3 separate regions of the Homo sapiens genome follow, and regions 2 and 3 are each linked to region 1. Evidence: fine-mapped expression QTL. A gene starts in region 1. Each other region holds a variant in brackets. All regions are shown on one strand. Distances are between the middles of the regions.

What was found. PIP is the estimated chance that this variant, and not a neighbour inherited with it, causes the effect.
Region 2: its variant is fine-mapped to the expression of P2RY2 in whole blood (TOPMed, PIP above 0.99). The same link has a PIP of 0.9 or more in T cells and monocytes.
Region 3: its variant is fine-mapped to the expression of P2RY2 in whole blood (INTERVAL, PIP above 0.99). The same link has a PIP of 0.9 or more in monocytes after LPS.

The regions. Positions count from the first base shown.
Region 1 is chr11:73,213,704-73,221,877 of GRCh38, forward strand. P2RY2 (purinergic receptor P2Y2) reads left to right here and starts at 4,578. Exons shown (of 3, transcript NM_002564.4): 1 at 4,578-4,729. It overlaps LOC124902709 (a long non-coding RNA gene), which reads right to left and starts at 4,490. Exons shown (of 3, transcript XR_007062773.1): 1 at 4,324-4,490; 2 at 2,140-2,336; 3 at 1,153-1,485. RefSeq lists enhancers at 4,412-5,130, 5,131-5,849 and a silencer at 4,489-4,698.
Region 2 is chr11:73,185,498-73,193,671 of GRCh38, forward strand. No RefSeq gene overlaps it. Among named protein-coding and RNA genes, the nearest start is that of IUR1, 6.7 kb to the left of the region's middle. The variant G/A (reference allele first, on the strand shown) is at 3,979.
Region 3 is chr11:73,238,638-73,246,811 of GRCh38, forward strand. It overlaps P2RY2 (purinergic receptor P2Y2), which reads left to right. Exons shown (of 3, transcript NM_002564.4): 3 at 1-3,790. Among named protein-coding and RNA genes, the nearest start is that of P2RY2, 24 kb to the left of the region's middle. RefSeq lists enhancers at 1,685-2,435, 3,834-4,580, 4,226-4,465. The variant G/A (reference allele first, on the strand shown) is at 4,272.

The DNA of each region.
Region 1 (8,174 bases):
CTGCACAGTGGCCCTCTTTGTCCTGAGCAGCCTGTCCCCATCCCACCTCCCTCCTGCGCTTCTCTCTCTCCTGCCTGGGTCACAAAAAGCACCAGCTTCGAAGAGAGCCAGGCCAGAACTCTGATCTTGGCTTCCCCCACTGAGTCTCTGTGTGACCCTGAGCAAGTTACTTTGCTTCATGGATTTTTAGTTTTTTGGTTCTGTGAAAAAGAGCTGTTGTAAGCAATCAAACTCCTGGCAAGGAGTTTGGCCTGCCACCCGGTGCTGAGACCCAGATAACAAATCATGAACTTGGAGACTCTTACCTCATCCTCATGCTGTTCACTGGACCTCTTACCACCAGCTCCCACCTCATTCTCACCCTCACCCTTTTGGCCAGTGGCTACCATTCTCCCACTTGACAGACAAGGAAACCAAGGCCTGACGACAGGGCTGACTTTGTGGGCATGTGACCTGGACAGTAAGGGTCATGATTTGAAGTGTTAAATACTCTGCTATCACCATCTTGAAATTCTTAATTTTTTCTTATTTTTTCATTCTTTTGTTGGAAATTTTAAATTTTTGAATGAGGGGCCCACATTTTCATTCTGCTCTGGGTCCCGCAGATTAAGTAGCTGGTCCTGCTTGAGGGGAGATGGAACAGAGGCATGCCCAGGCCTGGACTAAGCTTCCTGCATCCCAGGCGGCCTCACTTGGGTGCCCGCATCCTGGCATGCTGAGAGCTAGAGTTTCCAGGCTGCGTTTGGCATCAGAGCCCTGGACCCTGCCCAGGAAACCTGAGGAGCACAGTTCTCGGCTGGCAAGGGAAGGGAGGATGGTGCAGGTCAATGCAGCAGTTCAGGGAGCAAGTAAGACAAGGCTGCTAGAGCCAGCCCAGCCCTGTGTAACTGGAGCTGCCAGTGTGGGTCCCAATGCCATGACCCAGCCATAACTCTGGGAACTCAGCAGGGCCTTCCTTCCCATCAGGCTGCAATTCTGGGGCCAGGAGACCCACCGCAGATTCACTGCTTTGGACTTTCGCTTCCCCTTTCTGAACCTGTTTCTCTACATGTCACATGAGAATAAAATAATGCCTATCTCACAGGGTTCTGGAGAATATTAAGCGAGATACCTTAAACTTAATGACTAGCACAAAGAAGGTGACCACTAAAATAGAGTTCTTACTCATTCACTCATAATATATTGTGACAAATGTTCAGGGACAGGGGTCAGGTACGGTGGCTCACGCCTGTAATCCCAGGACTTTGGGAGGCCAAGGCGGGTGGATCGCTTTAGGCCAGGAGTTCAAGAACAGCCTGGCCAACATGGTGAAACCCTGTCTCTACTAAAAATACAAAAATCAGCAGGGTGTGATGGTGCACACTTGTAATCCCAGCTACTTGGGAGGCTGAGGCAGGAGAATCACTTGAACCCAGGAGGCGGAGGTTGCAGTGAGCTGAGATCACGCCACTGCACTCCAGCATGGATGACAGAGCAGGACTCCATCTCAAAGAAAAAAAAAGAAAAATTATTCAGGGACAGTGCTAGGTGTTGGCCATTTAATTGTGAACAGAATGGAACCTGGCTCTGCTCTCAGAGAGATCCCTGTTAGAGGGGGAGACAGGCAGTGATAGCAATAACAGCATGGTAAGTGGTGGGGCACCTGGCCTGGGTCTTCGAGGACCCATGGTGGGGAGCCAGAAGCAGGGGGCACTGTGGGCAGAGGGAGCAGCAAGAGGCAACAGGAGGCTGGTCAGAGGTGAGAGGTGAGGCAGAGAGGCAGGGAGGCTGGAGTGGCAGGCTAGAGAGCTAGGCTTTATCCAGAGGATGGTGGAGCCACCAGAGAGTGTAAGGCAGGGTATGGCATCAAGGGGCAACAGAGACACCACTGTACCCTGGGAAGGGGGGATTGGAGCCTGGGCCAGGGCAGAGGCTTCATCCCCAGCATGCATTTTCAGAGCAAGTTTTCCCAGGGGCAATGAGAGAAGTTGAGAGAAGGAGGATGAAAAGGCCTGAATGAGCCAAATACCTCCTCAGGGCTGGAGAGACAGGAAGCCTCCTAATACATGGGAGAAGCTGAGGCTGGAACTTTGCCCTTCCCCTCCTGATCTGCTACTGCTAATGGAACCCTCCTCCCGCCCCCATGGTTCCATTACCCACCTCCAGGGGACCATTACTGTGCCTGGGCCTTCACCATTAGCCTGCCTTGGCTGCTTGGTTCCAGGGAGACTCCCTCGATGCTATTCCAGCCTTTCAGATGGCCTGTTGTGTGACGCTGGCTGTGTCTCAATTTCCGGTTTGATCAATGGTTTTACATTACTTCAGCCACAAAATCTTTCATGTGCTTGCAACAAATTCTTACCAGGAAATGTAAATAAATAAAAATACAAAGGCAAAGGTGCTCAAGTTGAAGTGGGATGGGAGTTCCCCAGGCAGCCCCAGGTAAGGGGGACTCTGTTGGGGGATTTGAAGCCTGCTGGGCTTGATGGCCTCTGAAACCCAGCGATGGGACTGCCTGGGGAGGATGTCAGGAGACGAAACTTCTAGGCCCTCATTGCATGGGATACTAACGCCTTGAGCCCAGACAGCTTGGGATGATGAATAAAACCATGAAAAAAGAATTTAAGGATAGGGTGCAGGGGCTCATGCCTGGAATCCCAGCACTTTGGGAGGCCGAGGCAGGAGGACTGCTTGGACTCAGCAGTTTGAGACCAGCCTGGTCAACACAGGGAGATCCCATCTCTACAAAAAATTTACAAATTAGCCCGGCATGGTGGCATGTGCCTGTATTCCCAGCTACTTGGGAGGCTGAGATGGGAGGATCCCTTGGCCCTGGGACATAGAGACTGTAGTGTGCTGTGATCATGCCACTGCACTACGGCCTGGGTGACAGAGTGAGGCCCTTTCTCAAAAAATTTAAGACAGGCCAGCAAGTGAGAGATTAGTATTACTCCCTTTTGCAAAAGAGGAAACTCAGGCTCAGAGAGGAGTCATAGGACAGGTGAGGTAAGACTGGAATCTAAACCCAAGGCTATGGGGTTCAAGGACTAGGCCCCTTCCTCTGCTCCTCAAGCCTCACTAAGTCACCTGTGTGGTAGCTGAAACGCTGTATGTCTCAGGAATGCAGTTTCCTCAGCTGTAAAGTAAGGGAATTGGGCCAGAGCAGGGGCAGAGCCCTGGGCAGGCCACCAACCAGATTTGCCCGCTGAAGGCTAAGGTCGAGCCTGGGTCCTCAACTTGGCGTCAAAGAAACTTGTTTCTCCTGGGCTAAATGGCAGTGACAGTATAAGGTTTGAAGTTTTGGAAGAGGGGAGAGAAAGAGAGGGTTGGCTGGAGTTCCAGTGCCCAAAGGGTCTTCCCCACACTGGAACCTGAAGGCCTAGGCCCTATAACTCGGGCTATGAGGATACTTAGGTCCCTGGAAGGTGCGTGGCCCAGCTTAGACAATAGGCGCAGGAGGCTAGACAAGGGGCCTTTGTGTCTCCCAAGCAAAGGCCCCAGCAGGACTGCAGAGGCGGCTCAGCCACTATGGGCTGTGTGTCCACTCTGCTACTGCTCCTGGTGGGGCTGCAGCCAGCACCCTTCCTGGCAGCCAGGCCCAGTCAGCTGATATGGAGCCCAAGAGGGCCCAAGGCCCCGAAGGCCCGGGGCAAGTTCCTTGGCTACAGGAAGAGGCCTCCTCTGCACTTGTCCAGCCAGCGGAGCGATTGGCTCCATTTCACAGGAAAGAAGACCCTGCCAGGGAATGGAACTGGGTCAAGGTCTCCCAGAGTCAGTGCTGAAGCCAGACAGGAACCTACACTCCTGATTCCTAGACCAGAAATGAGAGAGAGGCGGGGTGCTCATTCATTCATCCATTCACACCTTCAAGGATTGAGCACCTCCCAGGACCTCTAGGACAGCAGCAGGAAGAAGGCAGACCTGGTTCCTGCCCTCGGGAGCTCACAGTCTCCGAACGGGTCAGACATGCAGCCGGTAGCCCGACCAGGGAAGGCCATTAGAGTGGGGTTGACGACAGAGAAGAGAGGTAAAGCAGCTCAAGATAAGGGGCCAGAGTGGGGAGTTCAGGGAGCTGCTGATAAGATTAAGGCAGGGAAAGTGGGGAGCACGGGAGAGGCGGGATCCTGAGTACCCTGCTTTCCTAACCACGGTAATGGAGAGAGGCACCCCCTTCCCCCACTTTCAAGCAAGGGAGGTACGTCCTTAGCCTGGGGTTCCGAGCAGGTATCTCCCAGTAGGTCCCTTCCTGGCCAGCCGGGCTGGGGCAGGGGCGGGACAGGGGTAGGGTGGCGCGGTGGCTGGGCGCAAAGGTCCCGCAGTGGGCCACGCAGGCACCGGGCTGACCTGGCAAAACTTTGGCGTCTCTGAAAACCTCTGGTAACCAGCTCCCTTCTAGCGTGAGGGAGCCGGGAGGCCTCCTTCTGGCCCGGCAGTGAGAGCGTCGCCGCCCGACCCTCCCGTTGCAGCACCGGTACAGACACGCTGACCCCGCGGCCTTGTCGCTGGGCGGCGTCCCGGAGCGGGTGGCGCGGTGTCTACCCGGGCGGGTTGAGGGCGGTGCCAGGGTCAGTCAAAAGTCCGCCCCGCCCCCTGCCTGGCCCGGCTTCGGGGTTGGGGAACAGCGCAGGGAGGTGGGTAGCCGGGCTCCCAGGCACGTGGGTCTCTGCGGCTGCGGCGGGACCCGGGCACTGGCACCCGGGAGCGGCGGCGACGGCACCCTGAGAGGAGAAGCGCAGCGCAGTGGCGAGAGGTGGGGTGGGGCGTCTGGAGGGAACAAGGCGCTGGGAGAGGCCCGGGGAAGCGGCGGGCCAGACTGGCGCAGGTGCGGACTGGGCGCGGGGCAGGGGAGGGCGCTGTGGAGCGGCTGTCGCCCCGGGGCACAGTTGCGAGCCGGCGTGTAGCGCATAACTGGACGGCTTGAACGCGCCTGTGGGTCCGTGGTTGAACTTTGTCTCCACGGGAGCGTCGGTCTCGGTGAGTGTGGACGGGCGCCCCAGTAGTGAGGCTGTGCGCGTCAGCGTACTGGGGAGGTCTGCGTGTTAGCGGGTGAGTGTGTGCGCCCCTCGGGGCGACTGGCCAAGCCTGCGGAACTTGTCTGTGTGTGCTCCGATGTGAGCGTCCCCGTGGCGTGAGGCGGTGGCCGGTGCCCAGAGACGCGAACCCCTGGAGACCCCCTACCACTGTCCTAACCCCAGGGTCACTCTGGGTGGCCACCTACCATTGGTAATGTTGAGGGGGCAGTTGCAGGGAGTGGGCGGGGGAGGAGGGAGTGGCCAGAAAGGACAGTTAAGCCTCTGTCCCCGGGCTTTTAATCTGGCAAATGGTGCGGTAGAAAGGGTCAGTCAGGAGAAAGGCGATACCCCACCCCCCAACCCGAAGGCTGCCAGTGGCCCTCTTGGGGTCCTCCAGGAGCGCAGCCCAAGGGTTGGGGACTGCTGGAGACCAGAATTGCCAGCTCGGGATTTGTGGGGTCCATGGCTGCTGTTCCTCTCAGCATGGCATCCCCAGCTTCCCAGGACCACAGCCTGATCTGCCTGGTTTGTTTTGGATCTAAGCTGAAATAATTATGAGTTTTGAGGATCTGGGTGGAGACCCAGGCAAGTTTATTACCTGTGGGTGGAAGTGGAAGGAAGAAGATTCTCTGAGCAGACAGGTCCACAAGAGAGCTCTGGAGACTCAGAGATCTATGTTCCAATCCTGTCTTGGCCACTGTGTGGCCTGGGCAAGCCGTCCTTTCTCTGAGCCTCAGTGGCCTCGTCTGTAAGAAGGGACTAATGATAAGGAATTTGAGGGCTGTTGAGGAGCTGATGAGTGTGTCATGTTCAGCACCAGTGTCCCCCCATGGGCAGGCTCACAGCTTGGGGATGGGAAGTCAGTCCCTGGAAGGAGCCTCCCAGAACCAGAATCCCAACTGTGCCCCTCCCTAGGGCACAAGCCTTCCACAGGACCAAGCCTGAACCCTGTAGCCTGGGACTTAAGGTATTTGATAACTGGGGCCTGCCAGCCTTTCCAGCCACCTCTCCCGCCTGACTCTTTACCTTGCAGCAGCTGCCTGGAGTCTCTCATTTCTTGCCCCTGGCCTGTTGCATATTCTACACTCCCTCTCTGATAAGCCCTCCTACTCTCACCTTCCTCAACTGGAGAACTACCCAGACTTGGGACCCAGCTCAGATGTCCTCTCCTCTGGAAAGCCTTCCTTGATCCCTACAGCTGGGTTGGAGCCTCTTCTAGGCCCCTACAGGCCTGGGGCTGACAGCCCTGGTCCCACCTGAACCGTCATGATCTATGTCTGTCTCCTCCTTTCCTCTTCCCAGGTCTAGGGGCTCCTGGAGGGCAGAAACTGGGTCTTATTATTTCTGTGTTGCCAGCACCCTGCACAGGGCTGAGCTGAACTGAGAGAGCAGCAGTGGCGCCCATCCCCTGTCTCTGGCACCAGCTTCTCCAGTAAAGGCCCGGCTGCAGGGGAGCTCCATGTCACTACAAAGAAGGGCAAACCAGAATCTGGTTATCAAAGTGGGTGGCACAGTTTGCCAGAACAGTGTGATCTGGGACACTGTAGGACCTAGAGTGCCCAGGCTAAAGACCTAGAGATTTTATCCTGAAGGCAATAGGGAGCCATGGAAATTTATGAGCAGAGGTGTTTCATGGTCAGAGCGGCATTTCAGAAAGCGCTCTCTGGCTGCAGGATGGAGAATGGATCAAGTATTGCCAAGTGCAGGGAGGTCAGGGCATTTGTGATGTCAACACTAGAACTGTCCCAGGAGTTGTTTGAACCCTAATTGAGCCCTTGCCCCTTGGCCAAACACTTTTCCCTGAGCCTTCAGATGCTCCTGCTGAGGAATTTGGGGACCTGCAATTGATCTCATCCCAGCTCTGTTCCCAGCTGGTTGAATGACCAGTTCCTGCCCTGCCAGGCTCTAAAAGGAGGCCAGAACAAGTAAGATCCTGCATGGGAGAGTATGTGTGTGGGGAGGCTCTGGCACAAAAGGCTTGTCGCTCTTTCTCCTCTTCTCCCTGCCTTGGGCTGTCTTGGAGTCTGGTCAGAGGGGTTGGGGATCCCAGTGGGCAACCCTCAGAAATGACTACCAAGCTTGGGCTGTGGAGTGAGGCTGTGACTCCTCTGTTTCTGTCTCCCTCCTGCCCTGGATGCATGGGGCTCTAAGGCTGTGGATCCCCCAAGGACCAGCTAAGAAGGTGTGAGGGTATCACCAGGGCCTCATGAGTGACCCCATGAGAGCTTTGACTTAATGGCTATAGTCTTTAGAGAGGCCATTGTCCCTCTCTAGGTGTCAGTTCTGCCATTTGTAAATTGAGAATGGTGATCCTTGCTTCTTTGAGAGCAGAGTTGCTACGAGGATTAAGATAGTGACCAGGGAAGAGCTTTATAAGCCTTAAACTGCAGTGCTCAGAGGAGGAATGTGACACTTGTAGACTTAAATCCATTTTGAAGACTATAAGAGAACATGGGTGCAATAGCAAGGGATTGTGCTTGTTATTGAAATTTGATTACTGAATGCCTTCCTCCCCCACCCCCTCTGCAGAGATGGCTTCACTAGTAACGATTTACAACAATCCATTTTGTCTTCCTATAGCCCTGTGAGGGAGGAATTGTATCTCCATTTTGCAGATCAGGAAATAGAGGCATGGATTGTATCCTGCCCAGGGTCACCAAGCTGAGGTGAAACCTGGGGCTCCAGTCCACCTGCCAGCTTAGCCCTCCCCATCTGAGACAGAGCCCTGTTAGGGTTAGGCCTGGTCCTCTGGCTTCCAGGCTGAGGGGAGTTTGAATTCTGCCCTGGGAACCTGTGTTTGGGGCTTTCTTGTGGCCAGATTACCCAACTGCTGATAAGGTAACGCCTGCCCAGACCTGCCCACGGGACCAGAGATGCCTTGTTGATCTGGTGAGGGGAGTGGGGGTTGCCCCTCATGCCTTCCACCCAAACCGCCTCTCCCCAAACTGCTTTCTGTAGGCCTGCTTGCTATACCCTCTGGGCCACACCTCCTCTTGGTTGTCCTTGGGTCCTGAGGCCTGGCCTTCCCTTATTACTGGGCCCTGATAGGAGGAGGCTGGCTGTGTGGGCCACTCTGACCTCTGTACTCATCCAGCGGCCAGTTGCAGGACTAGGCTAGGCCATACCTGCTTTCTCTCTCTGTCCCCATCAGCCACCACAGGTTGGGCTCAGAGCAGCTGCCAG
Region 2 (8,174 bases), 28 kb before region 1:
TGGTGATGGCCCTCTTTTGGGCTGAGACTCCTCACGCGGAAGATGATGGAGGTGGATGTTGTGAGTCCTCTGGTCCTCCAGCACTTCAATCCAGCCTCCCACGGCAAGCCAGTTCTCGGCAACTGTGTGCCTGGGGTTCCACTCCCAGCACCTGCTTCTGGATGGCCTGGGGGATCCACCTGGGTGCCCCTCCACTCCGGGTCCCAGGGGAGACTGACACCCACCCAGGCAACCACCTGCTTGTTACAGAGCCCTGCAGGAGGCAGCTCACCACCCACGAGGAGGGACTTAGGCAGCGGACTTGCTGAGGGGTAAGGGTCTGCCCCATGATGCCTCACAGCTCCACCTTCTGGGAGCCACCCACGTGTGGGCAGCCTCAGGGGACTCCAGCTCCAGGAGCAAGATCGGGTTGTGGATGGAGGAAGGGTAAGTGAGTCACTGGGCACTTCCGAAGGCCCAGCCTAAACGATGTCCGGCCCGGCCCAGAGGAGATCTGGTCTCCAGTGGGCATGGCCTGCAGGACCGTGAGGGCTGATGTGTCTGGCATAGCTGAGGGCTGAGTCAAGGGACAGGGTGTTTGCTTTCCTGAGAGGACTTCTCCGGAGTTGGGGCATCTCCAGCCTTGCAGCTTCTCCTGTCTCTGCCAAGGGAAAGGTGGTGGGCCAGTCTCTGAGCTCTGTTCAAATGTCCGTCCCTCCCTGGGTGCTCCCTCAGCTGCAACCCACTCCACGCTCCATGCCTTTTCACCACTTGTCCCCAGCCCTCCCCAGGATGCCTCCTTTAATCCAGTGAGCTGGCTGCTACCAGTCAGGGCACAAGTCACTCCCAAGCAGTTCAGTCCCTAGGGGAAGGAAGGGCCAGCTCACACATCTTGAGTGCCTGCTGTGTGCCAGGCAGGCCCGCGTGGCACACTTTGCGTTATTATTGCGTTTCTTTCTCACAGCAGAGCCTTGTGAGGCAAATATTATCACACTAATTTCACAAAGGAGGAAGTCAAAGCTGGCCCTGCAGTATGAAGACTCAAGCCCAGACTTGCTGGCTCCTGCCTGCATCTCCCTCCACCTGGGTCTCCTGTCTCCCTACCTGCGGAAAGCTCACACTCTGAATCATTGTGCATGGCTCTTACCCCGCCCACCCCATCCTTGCGGCTGCTCACCTCCTGCATCACCTGTGCCCACTCAACAGCACACATGCCCACAAGCTCACATGCACCAAGATGGGCGCACTGGGTGCACGGGTGCACATGCATATTCCAGTCCTTACTGCTGCTTATCAGCTGTGTGACCTTGAGCAAGTCACTTAACCTCTCTGAGCCTCGGTTTTCTCATCTCACAGGGGTTGTTATGAGAATTAAATAAGATACTGAGTGTAACATTTCTAGTACCTTCCCTGGGCATAGTGCTCAATAAAGATTATCTACTTTTTAAACTTTAGCTATTTTTATTTCATCATTATTGTATATGTGCATCTTTGTACACTTTTTACACATGTAACAAGAGACATGCAGTAGACACAGAGGCCCGGGGATTACCACACACACCTACTGCCCATGCAGGAACCCACAATAAACCAGCCAGCCACCTAGTATACTGGGTGCCCATATGCTCATGCCAGGCTCTACTGAAGATGGGAGTTGGGGTTACCTGTGGTAGGGATACCTGTGTATAGGAGAAGACGGGGCCCTGGCCTTGGGGTCCACCCAAGCTGCCCGGGAAATGAGTTTTGTGCTCAAAGTGTGATCTGCGGGCCAATCTGGGACCTTGTTAGAATCTTGAAGAATCTCATACCTGACCCCAGATCTTCTTCTGAATCATGATCTGTTTTGGTTTGTTTTTTTTTTTTTTTTTTTGAAACAGAGTCTTGCTCTGTCGCCCAGGCTGGAGTGAGTGCAGTGGCGCAATCTCAGCTCACTGCAAGTTCTGCCTCCCAGGTTCATGCCATTCTCCTGTCTCCTAGGACAATAGGCACCCACCACCACGCCTGGCTATTTTTTTTTTTTTTTAGTAGAGATGGGGTTTCACCGTGTTAGCCAGGATGGTCTTGATCTCCTGACCTCGTGATCCACCCACATCGGCTTCCCAAAGTGCTGGGATTACAGGTGTGAGCCACTGCGCCCCGCCCCGATTTTGTTTTGTTTTGTTTTTAGAGATGGGGTCTCGCTCTGTCAGCGACAGGCTCCAGTGCAGTAGTACAATCATACTCAATAGCACACTGCAGCCTTGAACTCCCAGGATCAAGCAATGCTTCTGCCTCAGCCTCCCAAGTAGCTGGGACTATAGGCACATGACGCCACATCCAGCTAATTTTTTAAAAAGTTTTTTGTAGAGATGGGGTGGGGTCTTGTTATGTTACCAGGACTGATCTCAAAGTCCTGGCCTCAAGTGATTCTCCCTCCTTGGCATCCCAAAGTGCTCGGATTATAGGCATGAGGTACCACACTCAGCCAGGATCTGCATTTTAAATAAGATTCTCAGAGCACTAAGGCAGAGCAGAGGAAAGTGGGTGGAGCTGCATGCCTGGGCAGGATGAGGCTGACTTTGGGCCTGTCCCAGGTGTCTCCAATCCACACCTCTATCAATCAGGCTAACACACCTCCTGGCTCCTCCTCTGCTCTTGGGAGTTGATGCTAAGGTGTGAGGTTATCCAGTTCAGCCTTGGAAGGACAGGCTGGCCCCCTCAATCCTGTTCTAGGAGAACAAAAATAGTGAAGTCTCTCCTTGGTTCCTCTCAGGGCTCTGAAGGGCTTGGGGCTGGGAGCCACATAGGATCCAAGAAACTAGCAGGGGGTGCCTCCTGCCCATCGATCCCCCTTCTGAACCATGTTCATCCTAGCTTGTGAATCTCCCCTCCCAGCCTCCGGGTAGGTCACTGCCAAAACTCTGGCTGACCTCTTCCATCTTGAGTGGGGTGTGGGCTCAGTCCCTTGGGGCCATGGGAGCCTGAAGCCTGGGCCAGATCCCCCCTCCCTATCCCTGTTGGGGCTAATTTTAGGGCTGCTTTGACAGCTGCCTCAGCTCAGCCTGGGTCAGTTCCCAGCCACTCACTGTTGGGGTCAGTTAGGGTCACCTAGGAGTGGGCCAGGCCAGCCCCACCTTTGGCTGCAAAAGATGAAACTAGAATCTTTGTCCCCTGTCCGCCCTCCCCACTGCCTGGAGAGTCCCACTGAGCTGACCTCCACGTCCCATGCCCTGTATGTGAAACCGCAGAGGAGCCCAGGATTTAGAACAGCCCATGGAGATCAAGACTGAGTATTGGTGCCTCCATGCCTGGAGGATGCAGACAGGTGAGGCCCCTTCTCAGCGGCCCTCTCTGATGCCAACCCAACACATATTTCTGAACTCAGTTACTGTGCAAGGCTGTCAGAGATTAGGAGCAGATGACACCTGGGATACTTTCTGTTTTTTGAGATGAGTCTCGCTTTGTCACCGAGGCTGGAGTGCAATGGCACAATTTCGGTTCACTGCAATCTCCGCCTTCCAGGTTCAAGCAATTCTCCCTGCCTCAGCCTCCCAAGTAGCTGGGATTACAGGCACCCACCATCACAACTGGCTAATTTTGTATTTTTATTAATTTTGTAATTTTGTATTTTTGGTAGAGATGGGTTTTCGCCATGTTGGCCAGGCTGGTCTGACCTCAGGTGATCTGCCCGCCTCAGCCTCCCAAAGTGCTGGGATTACAGGTGTGAGCCACCGTGCCCAGCCACACCTGGGATACTTTCTAGAGGGAGGATTTTAGCTTCTGAGAACAAAGGGATGGAGTCCTTCCTCTGTCACCAACGCTCTGGTCCTTGGTTTCCTCCCCTCGGAAAGGGTGTGGTGATACCTGCTCACAGACTAGCTGGGGGTACAGAGGAGGAGAAAAGGGCCGGAAAGCGTGCTGGGAACTCTGGAGTCTGCAGTGCCCACAGGGCCGCCACTCGGCTGGGGCCTAGGTTCTCTCCCATGAGAACCTAGAGGTTGAGCAGCTACCACAGTCTTC[G/A]CCCCAGCCTGCCCCCAGCCAGTAATGTTGCAGAAGAAAAGAGGAACAGATCTTGAAGCTGACGTGGGCGAAAGGGAAGGGAAATGCAAGCAGGGGCCACGGAGGGAAGCTATGGGTCTCCTTCCCCCACCTGCAGCCTTTGCTGCCTCTGTTACTACCTTCTGTCTTTCCAAATCCTCCCCTCATCTCCAGCTCCTGCTTCCTCCCTGACCCTAGGGGGCTAAATAAGATGGGACACTGAGCACCCTGTGGGGAGGTGAGCTGTCTGGTGGGCTTTGTTTAATTTTCCAGAGCCCCCTCTCTACATATAACCAAGGAACTTTCTAAAGACAGGGCTGGGCTTCAGTCCTCCAGGGGCAGCCCTGTGAACTGGGCTCAGAAAACCTCAGATTTGAACCCTCAACCCCATATCTGTCTGTGTTACCCTGAGCCAGGTGGGCCTCCCTCTGAATCCAGGTGCCTCATCCTCACACTGGCCCCATGAGGCCTTTGCAAGCTTCTGCCTGGTTCCTGGTTCTCATGGTGCCCCGGCCTTGTGTGTGAATGAGTGTGTGTGTGCACACTGGACTTTGCTGCACATGGTAGCCCACAATCAATATTGAATAGCCCACCTCAAATCCTTTTTGAAAGGCTGAGTACCTGAATAAATAGATAAATGTTGACTGAGTCTAAAAACACACATGCAGCCTGAGAAAAGCCTTGTTTATCCAGCCTCCCTAAATAAGGAGTCAATTCCCAGAGCGGACTCTCCAGATGATTCAGGATGGAGGAACCTAAAGATGTGGAAGAATAGAGGCCTCCTAGGTGGAGGGAACATCGTGAGCCACAGCTGAGAGCTGGAGGATACTTGGCTGCAAGTCGAACAGCCACATGAGATGAGCTGATAAGGCTGGCAGGGTCCAGAGCCTGGAGGGCCTCGAATGCCAGGCCAAGGAGCCAGACCTTATCCAGAGGGCAGTGGGAACCATGGAAGGGTTTTGAGCAGGGGAGTGACAAGGCTGGGTGTGTGGCCAGCAGGGTCCCTCTCTGGTTGCTGCATGAAGCATGGACTGAAGGCAGACAGCAGTGTCAAAGGGCCCTCTGCTTTTGAGGTTCAGGAGGAAAAGATGAAGGATGAAGTTGGGCAGTTCAGCGGAAGGTGAGAGGTGGACAGTCCCCAGGATAGCACAGAGGGGTGGCCAGGATTTAGTTAAGGATGGGAGGAGGGCAGGCAGAAAATGAGAGGAGGCTTGGTGGCTTCTGGGTTCCTGGCCCAGGTGACCGGCTGGTTGGTGATGCTCTTGCTGAGGTTGTGACAGGAAGAGCAGGTCTGGGGAAAGATAAAGAGTTCATCAGCTTTGGACATGTCAGGGGAGCAGGCGTCCCAAAGGAGGATTGATTAGAGGGCTGGAGCCAGGTAAATGTGGACAGATTTTCCCTGAATGACATTTTACTGGATGACTTTAAAGTATCCCAAGTATCCTGGGGACAGTCTTTGGCACCAACTGCCTATGGTCCCCAAGACAGATAGGACCAGGACTTGGGTCCCAGAGAAGGGTCAGCAAAGGGTCTGACTAGGGTGAAGGGGAGGGTCTAAGATCCTTGGCTCAGGAGTACCCCCAGGGTAATGCAGGAGTGGCTGGCACAGAGGTTTAGAGGTAGATAAGGGGTAGGAAAAAGCCATGGGTGGGCTGAGCTGGCAAGCCTCAGAGACCAGTCAGCCCAGAACCATCATTGTACAGACAGACAGAGCCAGGCCCGGCAAGGCCTAGGGATCTGGCAGGTCACAAGTCAAGGCAGACAGGTCATCAGCTTCTGGCTCAGTGCTGTACCCTCAGCCCGACTGGCTGGGAGGGGTCAGCTCCGTGTGGGCCTGGGATTGAGCTCCTGGGCCACGTCTAGGTGCTGTGGGCTTGTGTGGTTCGGGTGGAAGCACTGGGGCAGGCAGATGAGAGCCCCACCCTGAGCAGCACCCTAAACCCACTGTCTGTCAGTCTGCCCCAACCCTGTGCTTTTACTTTCTCAGTCCCAGGACCCAGGCTGGGCTGTAATCAGAGGAGGGAACTGGAACCTGGACCGGGGGAACACAAAGCTCTGCACACAGCCAGTCTCCTGGCAGATGCTGAGATGCTCATGGGTGGGTGGGGGACTGTGGCATCAGGGGCCATGTTCCACACAAGGTGAAATGCAGTAAGGGCAATTTCCACAAAGCTTGTTGAGCCAGGTACTGTTTTATGATCTTGAAACAGTGAACAGGATTTATGTTCTAACTAGACATTGACAATAAGCAAACTAATACATAACATAACAATGGAAAGATGAGAGGAAGAAACAGAGCCCAGAGGGATGGGCACCTTCAGTGGGGAGCGGGGAATGGCCACTTGACAGAAGACCCCTGCAGGCCTGATGGGCTGAGTGATTTTAATTAAATCTATGTCCCTACCCCCGACCCATGTACCCCCACCCCGCCTGCCACCAGGCACTCCACCTTCTCCTCAGCTCTAGCTGCACCACTGGGAGTTCCTATTTTTTTTTTTTTTTTTTTTTTTTTTGAGACAGAGTCTCACTCTGTCACCCAGGCTAAAGTGCAGTGGTGCGAACTTGGCTCACTGCAACCTCCACCTCCCGAGTTCAAGCAATTCTCCTGCCTCAGCCTCCCAAGTAGCTGGGATTACAGGCTCCCGTCACCACACCCAGATAACTTTTGTATTTTTAGTAGAGACGGGGTTTCACCATGTTGGCCAGGCTCGTCTTGAACTCCTGACCCCAAGTGATCTGCCCGCTTCTGCCTCCCAAGGTGCTGGGATTACAGGTGTGAGCCACTGCACCCAGCCGCACCATTGGGAGTTTCTGAGGGCTGCCCTTGACTGGACCATTACCAGGGCCTGAGGAGGACTGTGGGGAAATGAGCCTCTCACAAGGTCTAGTCCCTCCCACAAAGTCCTGCCCAAGAGCCACCCCAACCTGCCCACTTGGCTCCTCCAACCTGGGAGCCAGGTAAGAGCTGAGGAGCCCCAGGGCCTTGGCACTGAGTCAGATGTAGCCTGGGAGGTGGAGGTGACTCACTTGGGGGTGTCAAGATCCAGGAAACCACAGCCCAGGGTCAGGGCAGAAACCTGGAGACTCCCTGCCTTGCCTTGCCCCAGAATGATGAATAGGAGGGCCCTGGCCTTTCCTAAGAAGCCCCCAGCCAAGGGTCCTCCTGCTGTCATGAAGGCCCAAGTTCCAGTCAAGTTGTTGAGAGGTGCCCAAGGACCTGCCAGTGCCTGCTTCCTCTGGGCCTCGGCCTCCTAGTCCACTTATAGTGGGGAGCAATGGGGCTAGATAAGCTTCAGTGTTCCTAGCAGCTCTGAATTTCTGTTTCGTTGAGTATGTTGCAGGAGGCCCACAACCTCTGATGGTTCCTGGGGGCTCAGGGCAGGGGTGAATGACAGATGCTGAAAAGCGGGGGTCAAGGGAGGGTTTGCAAGGTTTAGCAAATGTCAATACAGGATATGTTGTTAAATTTGAATTTCAGATTAGCAATGAATAACTTTTTAGTATAAGCACATGTCCCAAATATCCGTTATGTTAAAGAATTTTTCACTGTTTATCAGAAATTCAAATTTGACTGGGCGTCTTGTACTTTCTCCGGCCATGCTAGGTGGGAAAGGTAATTGGAGCTGGGACTTCATCAGAGGAAGGTCTTAGACTCAGACAACTGGAGCTCTCACCACCTCCCTTGCTGCCCTCAGGGTCCCTTATCCATGAACTTCTTGATTTGTTGGAAGGTAGGGGGATGAGGGAGTGAGAACCCTGGGGTTAGGGGAAACTAAGAGCTATGTAGAGAGGCAGAGAGACCCCAAGACCCCAAGAGGCAGCACCGGAACTCTTCCTGGCCTGCACTCAGCTAACCTCGCCACCTCTCTTCCCCAGAACTCCTGCAAAGCTCAACCTCATTCCTACTGCCATACCCTTGCTTGTTCCAGCCCTGCCTCTTTCCATCCTATGCAAACTTTACCCACAGCCTCTGCCAGGAGCCCTTTCTTGGCTATCCTTTAGCGTTGTGACTTCCTCCTCTGGGTTCCCAGAGTGCTGTCAGTCACCCTCCTCCTCATGGAGCTGTTCAATCAATGGAGCACCCTCTCTGGAGGAGGCTTTGGAGCAGACTCTGGGCAGTGATTAGGACAGTGGAGCCGACAGTGATCGGGACAGGCACAGCCCCTGCTCCATGGAGC
Region 3 (8,174 bases), 25 kb after region 1:
TCACAGAAGCCCTGGGAAGTAGATGCTATGATCCTATTTAGCAGATGAGGAAACAGGAGAAGGGCGTGAGAAGTGAGGACTTGTTCCAGGTTATCCAGGCTGTCAGGGTGAGTCAGAGTGAGTCCAGGTTCACCTGATGGCCAGAATCATGCCCTTTATAGTGCCCCACGACACTCACAGCCCTGCAGGGCAGAAGGGTCTATAAGTGGCCCCTCGCATGATTCAAGATGACAGAGGCAGTGTAGCAAGGATGTGAGAACACAGATGCTCCACCCAGACCACCTCAGTGTCAATATTGTCCCCACTTTCCTGGCTGGGGTCTCTTGGGCAAGTTACCTAATCTTGCAGCACCTCAGTTTTCCCATTTCTAAAGTGTGCTGCTACCTTCCATGCAGGGCGTTGAGGGGCTTCCCTACGTTATTACGCACAAAGTCCTCCTCACAGTGCCTGGTGTGTGGTCAGCATTTATATGCCTGGCACCAGGCCGGGGGCTATGGAGGCAAATCAGCTGGGCCCTGCCCTCACAGAGTTGACATCACTTAGTACGTAACCACATTGGGATACATGTTTTGAAGGAGAGGACAGTGTGTCTGGCCAGTGAGCAACAGTGGGCCATACGTCTCCAGGGAACCCCCGTGGGGTGTGGGAGGAGGGAAGCAGGTCTGTCCTGGGGGAATGTGTGGGACCACCTCTGCCCTGCTTGGCAGTAGGTGGATTTCAGGACCATGGGCCTGTGCTGTTTACAGAACCTTGTCCAGGTGCCCAGCTGTGGGAGGGCAGCATGGAGAGGAGGAAGAGGGGGCCCCTAGTAGCAAGCTTCAGAAACTTGCCACTTCAGGCTAGAGAGCTCGCACCCTCCCACGGCAGCAGGGTAGCCATTTCTCCCTGACTGGGGTGTCCACCATGGTGCTCTGCAGCCACCTCTCACTTCATTAAGAGTCCACAGATCTAGGAGCAGAGGACTGGTCTGGAGCTGGGCAAGGGCAGGCAGCAAATGGGGAGTTTTTGCTGTGTGACCTGAGGTCACTTGCCTGCCTTCTCTGGACTGCACTGTAGGGCCTGGAGACCTGTTCCCCTGTTCCAATTTCCCCACCTCAGTGAAGGCACAACCAACAGCTGCTCCCCGGGCATTTCCAAGACCCTCCAGGCCCCCAGCTCTGAGGACTAGGGTGGAGGCAGTGTTTCTCCCCAGCATCAAGTGACCAGAGAAGTGAAGTGACCCCACTGCCGCCACACAGAGCCACACAGTGCGATGTCTGGAGCTCCTGCCTCCTGCAAGGTGGAGGGTGGGGCTTGGCCAGGAGTGACCAGACTACAGAGTGAGGGGTGTGCTTGTGGGGGTGAAGGGTTGGGGTGAGAACTGAGCCCGAGTCGAACTCATCCTCCTCTGCCCTGATGCACTGTGCAACTTGGGGGAGTCACTGTCCCTCTCTGGGCCTCGCTTTCCCCATCTTCGATAGGACTTGGCTCTGCCTGGCCACTCCTCCTCCAATGGGGGAATTCCTGGGCTTGCCTCTGTCTTGGCTCCAGCTCAGGTGTCAGTCTCAGCCCTGTCCCAGCCAGGAACAATGGGCCAGGCAGGGCCAGTCACCCCCTGTCCCTGGGGGCTCCACCCACGGCCCTGGACTATTTTCAGCCCTTGCAGATGGAGTCAGAAGAGGATTTTCCACTCCCAGTACAATGACTGCCCTGGACCATTGTCCAGCAGTGACGCGGGGGACCTGCCTGCCCCAAAATATCTCCTGCCCCTAGTTTCCAAGCCTCTTTGCCCTGCTCCTCACCTCCTGGCCCTGCTCCTTACCTCCCCACCCTGATGTCATTTCCTGGGGCTCTTAACTCCTGAAGGCCATTGTGAAACATCACGTGAGACTCCTGGGAGACACAACCAGTTGGAATGAGTTTTCCCTCCTGGCAGGGACCCCAGGGATTGTTTGGCTGCTTAGTGGGACTGGTGGCCCAGAGAGGGCTGTGCCTTACCCAGTCACACAGCAGTCAGTGTGAAGCTTAGGTGTAAGCCCAGGGCTCTTTGGCTGCTCCCACTGCCTCAGCCAACTTCATTAGCTCCAGTCTGTGGCTCCTGGACTGGAGCTACAGTGGTGAGAGCTCACCACTGAGCTTCCTGGGATGGGCACCTGGGATAGCAGCCCAAGTGGTGTGGGTGGAGAGGTGCAGCTCATGCTCTGACCTTGGAGTGAGCCCAGTGCAGGGGCCTGACCTTAAACCCTTTCTCCCCACTGAGTCCCATTTTTACCAAATGTGGCTGTTAGGAACTGAATGTTTGTGTCCCCCGCCCCACAAATCCATATGTCAAAATCCCAACTGCCAAGGTGATGGTATTAGAAGGTGGGGCCTTTGGGAAGTAACCAGGTCCTAAGGGTGCAGCCCTCATGAATGGGTTTAGTGCCCTTACAGAATGGACCCCAGAGAGCTCCTCACCCTCTTTCCACCATGTGAGGATATAATGAGAAGTTGGCAGTCTGCAACCTGGAAGAGGTCCCTCACCAGATCCCAACCATGCTGGCACCCCGATCTTAGACTTCCAGTCTTCAGAATGGTGAGAAATAAATGTCTCTTGTTTCTAATCCACCCAGTCGGTGGCATTTTGTTATAGCAGCCCACGCTGACTGTGACTGAACTCAGGGTGACAGAGCAGCAGCTCTGGGGCAAAGGGGAGGGTGGGGGCCACAGGGCAGCTGATGCAGGAGCAGGGCTCTGGCACAGTTCAGCCATCACCAATTCTGGGACTGCAAATTCAGTTTCTTCATCTGGAAAATTGAACTGGTAATACCAATACCTCTTTTCCCGGTTTACTAGACAGAGACAATGCAGTGAGGCACAAACATGCAACTGTTTGATTTTCCTCCCACCCATGCTCCCTGCTCAGTGACGTGTGATTTTCCTTTCCCATCCATAAACTGCGCATTTGGCAAACTCCAAACTTTTGAGTCACTTTTGGGTAACAAAGTCAGGTTTAAGATTTCCATCGCCTGCTTAATTGAATGCTCACCTGTCCTCTTCCCCCATGCTGTGAGGACCTTCATCACTCCTCTTCTGGGTCCCTCTCTCCTCTAGGTGTTGGGGCAGGGTGGGGAGGAAAGGGACCAATGTGTCTTTCCTGGTGATGCTACAGCCCTCTCTTGCTGACCTTGCTTCCTGGGCCATCAGTGCCCCCTGCACAGAACTCTCCAAACATCAGTCCACACCTTTGTAAAAACAGTCTCTCCGCTAAGCTATCCCAAAATGACCTGATTAGAGTGTGCAACGTCTTTCCTGCTGGGACTCTGACTGATACCCTGGTCTCCCTGAGTGATTTTCCTGCACACCCTGCTGGGGATGTGGAAGCCTGTCCCCCTCCCACCCCACACCCCACACTTGGCTGAGATCTCACAGTGGCAAAGATGTCTTTGAATCCATGGTGCCCAGGGTTCAGCGTGTAGAGTGAGGTGGGGTGTGTAGAGAGCTGGGGCAAGGAACCCTGAGAAGATGTCTTACCCCAGTTGTTTCCAGGTTTCTTTAGAAAGCGGGCTATTTTACCCCATGTGTCCTCAGATTTATGTCCTGGAACCAAATTCCAAATCAGCAGCCACATGAAAAGTCCCCTCCTCTCTGGCGTGGAATTAAACTGTTAGACCTGCCTTTGTGACCAAAGCAATTGTAAAACGTGGGGGAGGAAATTAAAAGCCTGCCACCTTAGTCCACACAGTGTGTGCTGTCTCTGTGTGTGTGCACGTGTGTTTATGTGTGTGTTGAATGATCACATGTTCCAGGGAGGATGGTGAGGGGCGAGGGGCAGTCCTGGCAGGTACCAAGTGGACACTCAGAGACAGAAGGGCTGCAGGTGGGCAGCCAGGCCAGAGGGGGGCAACAAGGGGCTGCCAGGAGTCAGACTAAACCCCGGAAGTGGAAGTGGAATGGCAGGAAGAGATGGGAATGGAGAGAGGGTCCAGCTGCCAGCTCTGTGGCACCCCCTCTCCTTCCCTCCCTCCCACTCTAACTCCCTTTCCCTCCCCACTCCCCATCACCCTCCCCTTTTGCTCCCTGTCCCCAGAATCCTTGGGAGCAAAGGGAGGCGGACAGGGACAGTCCACTCTGTGCTCTGCCCTGGCTGTTTAGTCTACGAAGGGCCCCAGGTTGGTTGGTGCTGCTCTGCTTCCCCCTGGTGGCCAAAGCTGGCAGCAGTGGCAGGAAACGGGGGCTGGGATCCAGACCTTCGCCTATGGGGTGATAAGAAAATGATCCGGCTGCAGCCAGGCTGTTGAGTGTGAGGGTCC[G/A]GGGGGAGAGCTGACAATTGAAACAGAGAACACAATTTGCATACAGTGACTTGCCAACATGCCCTGACTTGCCAACAAGGTGACGGTGCCTGGCCCAAACCATGATGTCCGTCTCCTGCACCCCAGCCAGGGGTAGAGATCATTCCCTGCTGAGCAATCCCTTTTCCTGTGGAAGACCACTCTTCACAGGGTCCTGCGCCTCCCCAGCTCAGACTCAGGGACACAGCACATCTGCCTAGGGCAGCCGTGGAAGGACATGGAAGGGTGTAACCATGCTCTTTCCAAAGAATGGGCACCCCTAACTCTCTCTTCTACCCCACTCCGGTAACCCCATCCTCACCAGAGACCCCTGCCCTCCGCACGCCCCTAGAAGTCCTTGTCTTCTCACAGGACAGCCTTCAAAACTGCACTCCATGCCCCGGAGAAGTGTGACTAGCACAGCCGGTTCTCCCAGGAACTCCATCTGGGAAGAAGTTGGGGTTCATCCACCACACCTGAGATGCCTGTAATTTGGATCCCACCAGCATGTCCGTAGGTAAGATGTGTCTGACTCCTGTGGAAGTCATGTGGAAAGGGAGGCCTGAGTTCGGGGTCCTTGTGTGGATCCAGAAGCAGAGGTAAGATGGGAAGCCTCAGCCAGCCTCCTAAGCCGTCCTCTCAGATCTCTGCACACCTCTCACCCACAAGCTTTTACTCCACATAAACCCAGATGCCCTCATTCACAGCACAGAAAGCACACAAATCCTGGAGTCAGAGGGACTTGCGTTTGAATCCCAGCTCTGCCACTCATCAATCAGGCGACCTTGGGTACCTGTTTTCTCATCATAAACAAAGGGGGTAACTGGCCGGGCATGGCAGCTCACACCTGTAATCCCAGCACTTTGGGAGATCGAGGCGGGTGGATCACTTGAGCTCAGGAGTTTGAGACCAGCCTGGCCAACATGGTGAAACCCCATCTCTACTAAAATACAAAAATTAGCTGGGAATGGTGGCACGTGCCTGTAATCCCAGCTACCTGGGAGGCTGAGGCAGGAGAATTCCTTGAACCCGGGAGGCAGGAGGCGGAGGTTGCAGTGAGCCGAGATTGTGCCACTGTACTGCAGCCTGGGCAACAGAGCGAGACTCCATCTCAAATTAAAAAAAAAAAAGTGGGGGGGGATGGTAACCATACTCACATCATAGTTTATTTATGCTGTTTCTCCTTGCTAGAATGAAAGTTCCCAAAAGGCAGGGATCTGTTTTGGTCACTGCTTTATCCTCCGTGCCCATCAGTGCCCGGCACATTCCTTTCCTTTGCAAAGGAAATAAATTAATTATTTTACAAGTTTCACAATGGCCCTTTGAGGCAGGAACCTTATTATCACCCACTCATTCATTCATTTATTCAACAAATATTTAGTAAGTACCTACTATGTGCCAGGTACTGCTCTGTGTAATGTCCGTAAATCATCAGTGAATTAAAAAAACAAAGACAGCCAGGTGTGGTGGCTCACGCCTGTAATTCTAGCACTTTGGGAGGCCGAGGCAGGCAGATTGCCTGAGCTCAGGAGTTTGAGACCAGCCTGGGCAACATGGTGAAACCTCGTCTATACTAAAATACAAAAGAAATTAGCTGGGTGTGGTGGCAGGCGCCTGTAGTCCCAGCCACTCGGGAGGCTAAGGCAGAAGAATTGCTCAAACTCAGGAGGCAGAGGTTGCACTGAGCCGAGATCATGCCACTGCACTCCAGCCTGGGAGACACAGCGAGACTCTGTCTCTTTAAAAAAAAAAAAAAAAAAAAAAAAAGACAAAGACGATGCCCTTGAGCTCACATTCTAGTAGGGGGAGAGAGATAATAAGCAGTGAACATAATAGAATGTAAATTATATGGTGTGTTAAAAGGTGACAAGCTCTGTAGGAGGCAAAAAACAACAGGAAGAGGGATTGTGAGGACATGAAGGTTGCAATTTTAAATAGGGTGGTTGGGTGAAAAGGAGGCATTTGGGCAAATACTTGAAGGAGGTGTGGGAGTTAGCCAAATGGAAAAGAGCTCCCAGAAAGAGGGACCAGTAAGTGCAAAGCCCTAGGGCCTGCAGCTGGGGTGGAGTGGGCCTGGAGGGGAGGAGGGGAGGCCAGAGGTCGGGGGAGATCTGGTAGGACATTGAATGAGAAGGGAAGCCATGCAAGGTCTGAGGAGGAGACAGAATCTGACTTACATTTTAGAAGGATTGGTCTGTCTGCTGTGCTGAGAATAGACCACAGTGGGGCAAGGTCAGAAGTAATGACTACAGGGAGGAGCTGTTGCAGAAATCCAGGTGAGAGCTCAGGCTGAGGACTGGGACCAGGTGGTAGCAATGGAGGTGGGGAGAAGTGGACCAATGCCAGATGTATTCTGAAGGAAGAGTGAATGGGATCCTTTATGGATTGGATGGAAGGAGGTGATAAAAGAAGAGGGGGTGCAGAGGATGCCTACAATGTTTTGTAGACAGTGACCCTGAGATCTAGAGAAGATGTAGTGTGAGGCCACACAGCTAGTCAGTGGGTGGGGGTGGAGGAGAGGAGGATGGGACCAGGGTGGCGGGAAGGTCCTCAGGTCTAGGACAGCATCTGGGAGAGGATAGGGGGAAGGACTCTGGCATAGCTGGTCACAAACCAGCCCCAGGGCAACTGAGCATTGATTTGATCAATGGCTTTTTCCTCTTCCCTTGAATTCCCCTATGATGGCCTTTTAATTGGGTCCATTTGTTCCAAGGCCGTGGGCTGAGCTGAGCAGACGCCAAATGATATGCCTATTATTAAATAGATTAGGAAATGGCCCTACATCTTGGGCGGCCAGAAAAACCAGAGTGACTGAACAGTGTCCCTGAGGAGTAACACGTGTATTGTGGAATACTGGATGTATTGCAGAATCCCTTCCAGGCACCTTGCCTTTCCTATGCTGTCCCTGCGTCTACAGAATCCTTCTGACTTCCTTGCTCACCTGAAATGTGTCTCCTCCTCCAAGATTCACTTCAAATCCCCTCCTCGGTGAAGGAGCTGAAGGAGCGCGCTAATCGCCACCCCTCCCTCAGCCTGCCTGAGCTACTGCCACAGAGAACTCACACATCTGCCTGGCAAGAGATCCAACCTGAATTGGAGGGTCTGCCCTAGGGGACACTGTCCAAGTCAGGGTTGTCCAGGGAACAGGATTACCCAAAGAACATTTAAATAACAATCCCACTTCAGTAAAAAAAAAAAAAAAGATGTCTCCATTTCCTGAGCTGGAGTCAAAAAGGGTGGCTGGGAGGCAGCAGAGAAGAGGAGTGAGTGTAAATTCCGTGTGATGGAAATGAGTGGCAATTTAAATTCGACTGGAGAAAAAGAAAACTTTCATGTCAGTATCAAACTCAGACCATTTTTAAAAATCGGTTTCTTCCATTTTAGACATTATATACTGGTTTCCTTTTGTGAAATGAGGCTTTAGTTCTCTTCCTTCTCTCATTCTCCCATTGCAATTTTTGATTAAATATTCAGTGCTTCCATTTTTATGATGTCAAAAATGTTGCTCACAGTGACATCTTAGGGCATTCTATGTTTATATTTTCTTTCTTGCATAACTTTTTGTTTTTCCTGGAATTAATAACTGCCTCACTGTACATTCCTAAGAAGGACATATTCTAAGGACAAAGAGAACTAACTCTAAAGAAATCTGAAGCAGTCTTTGTAATCATATTACAAGTACGGTTACCCCTGAACATCATGGGCTTGAACTGCATGGGTCCACATATATGCAGATTTTCTTCTGCCTCTGCCACTCCGGAGATAGCAAGACCAATCCCCACCTTCCACCTTTTCCTCAGCCTACTCAATATGAAGATGAGAGGGATGAAGAACTTTATGATGATCCACCTCCACTTAATGAGCAGTAAATATATTTTCTCTTCC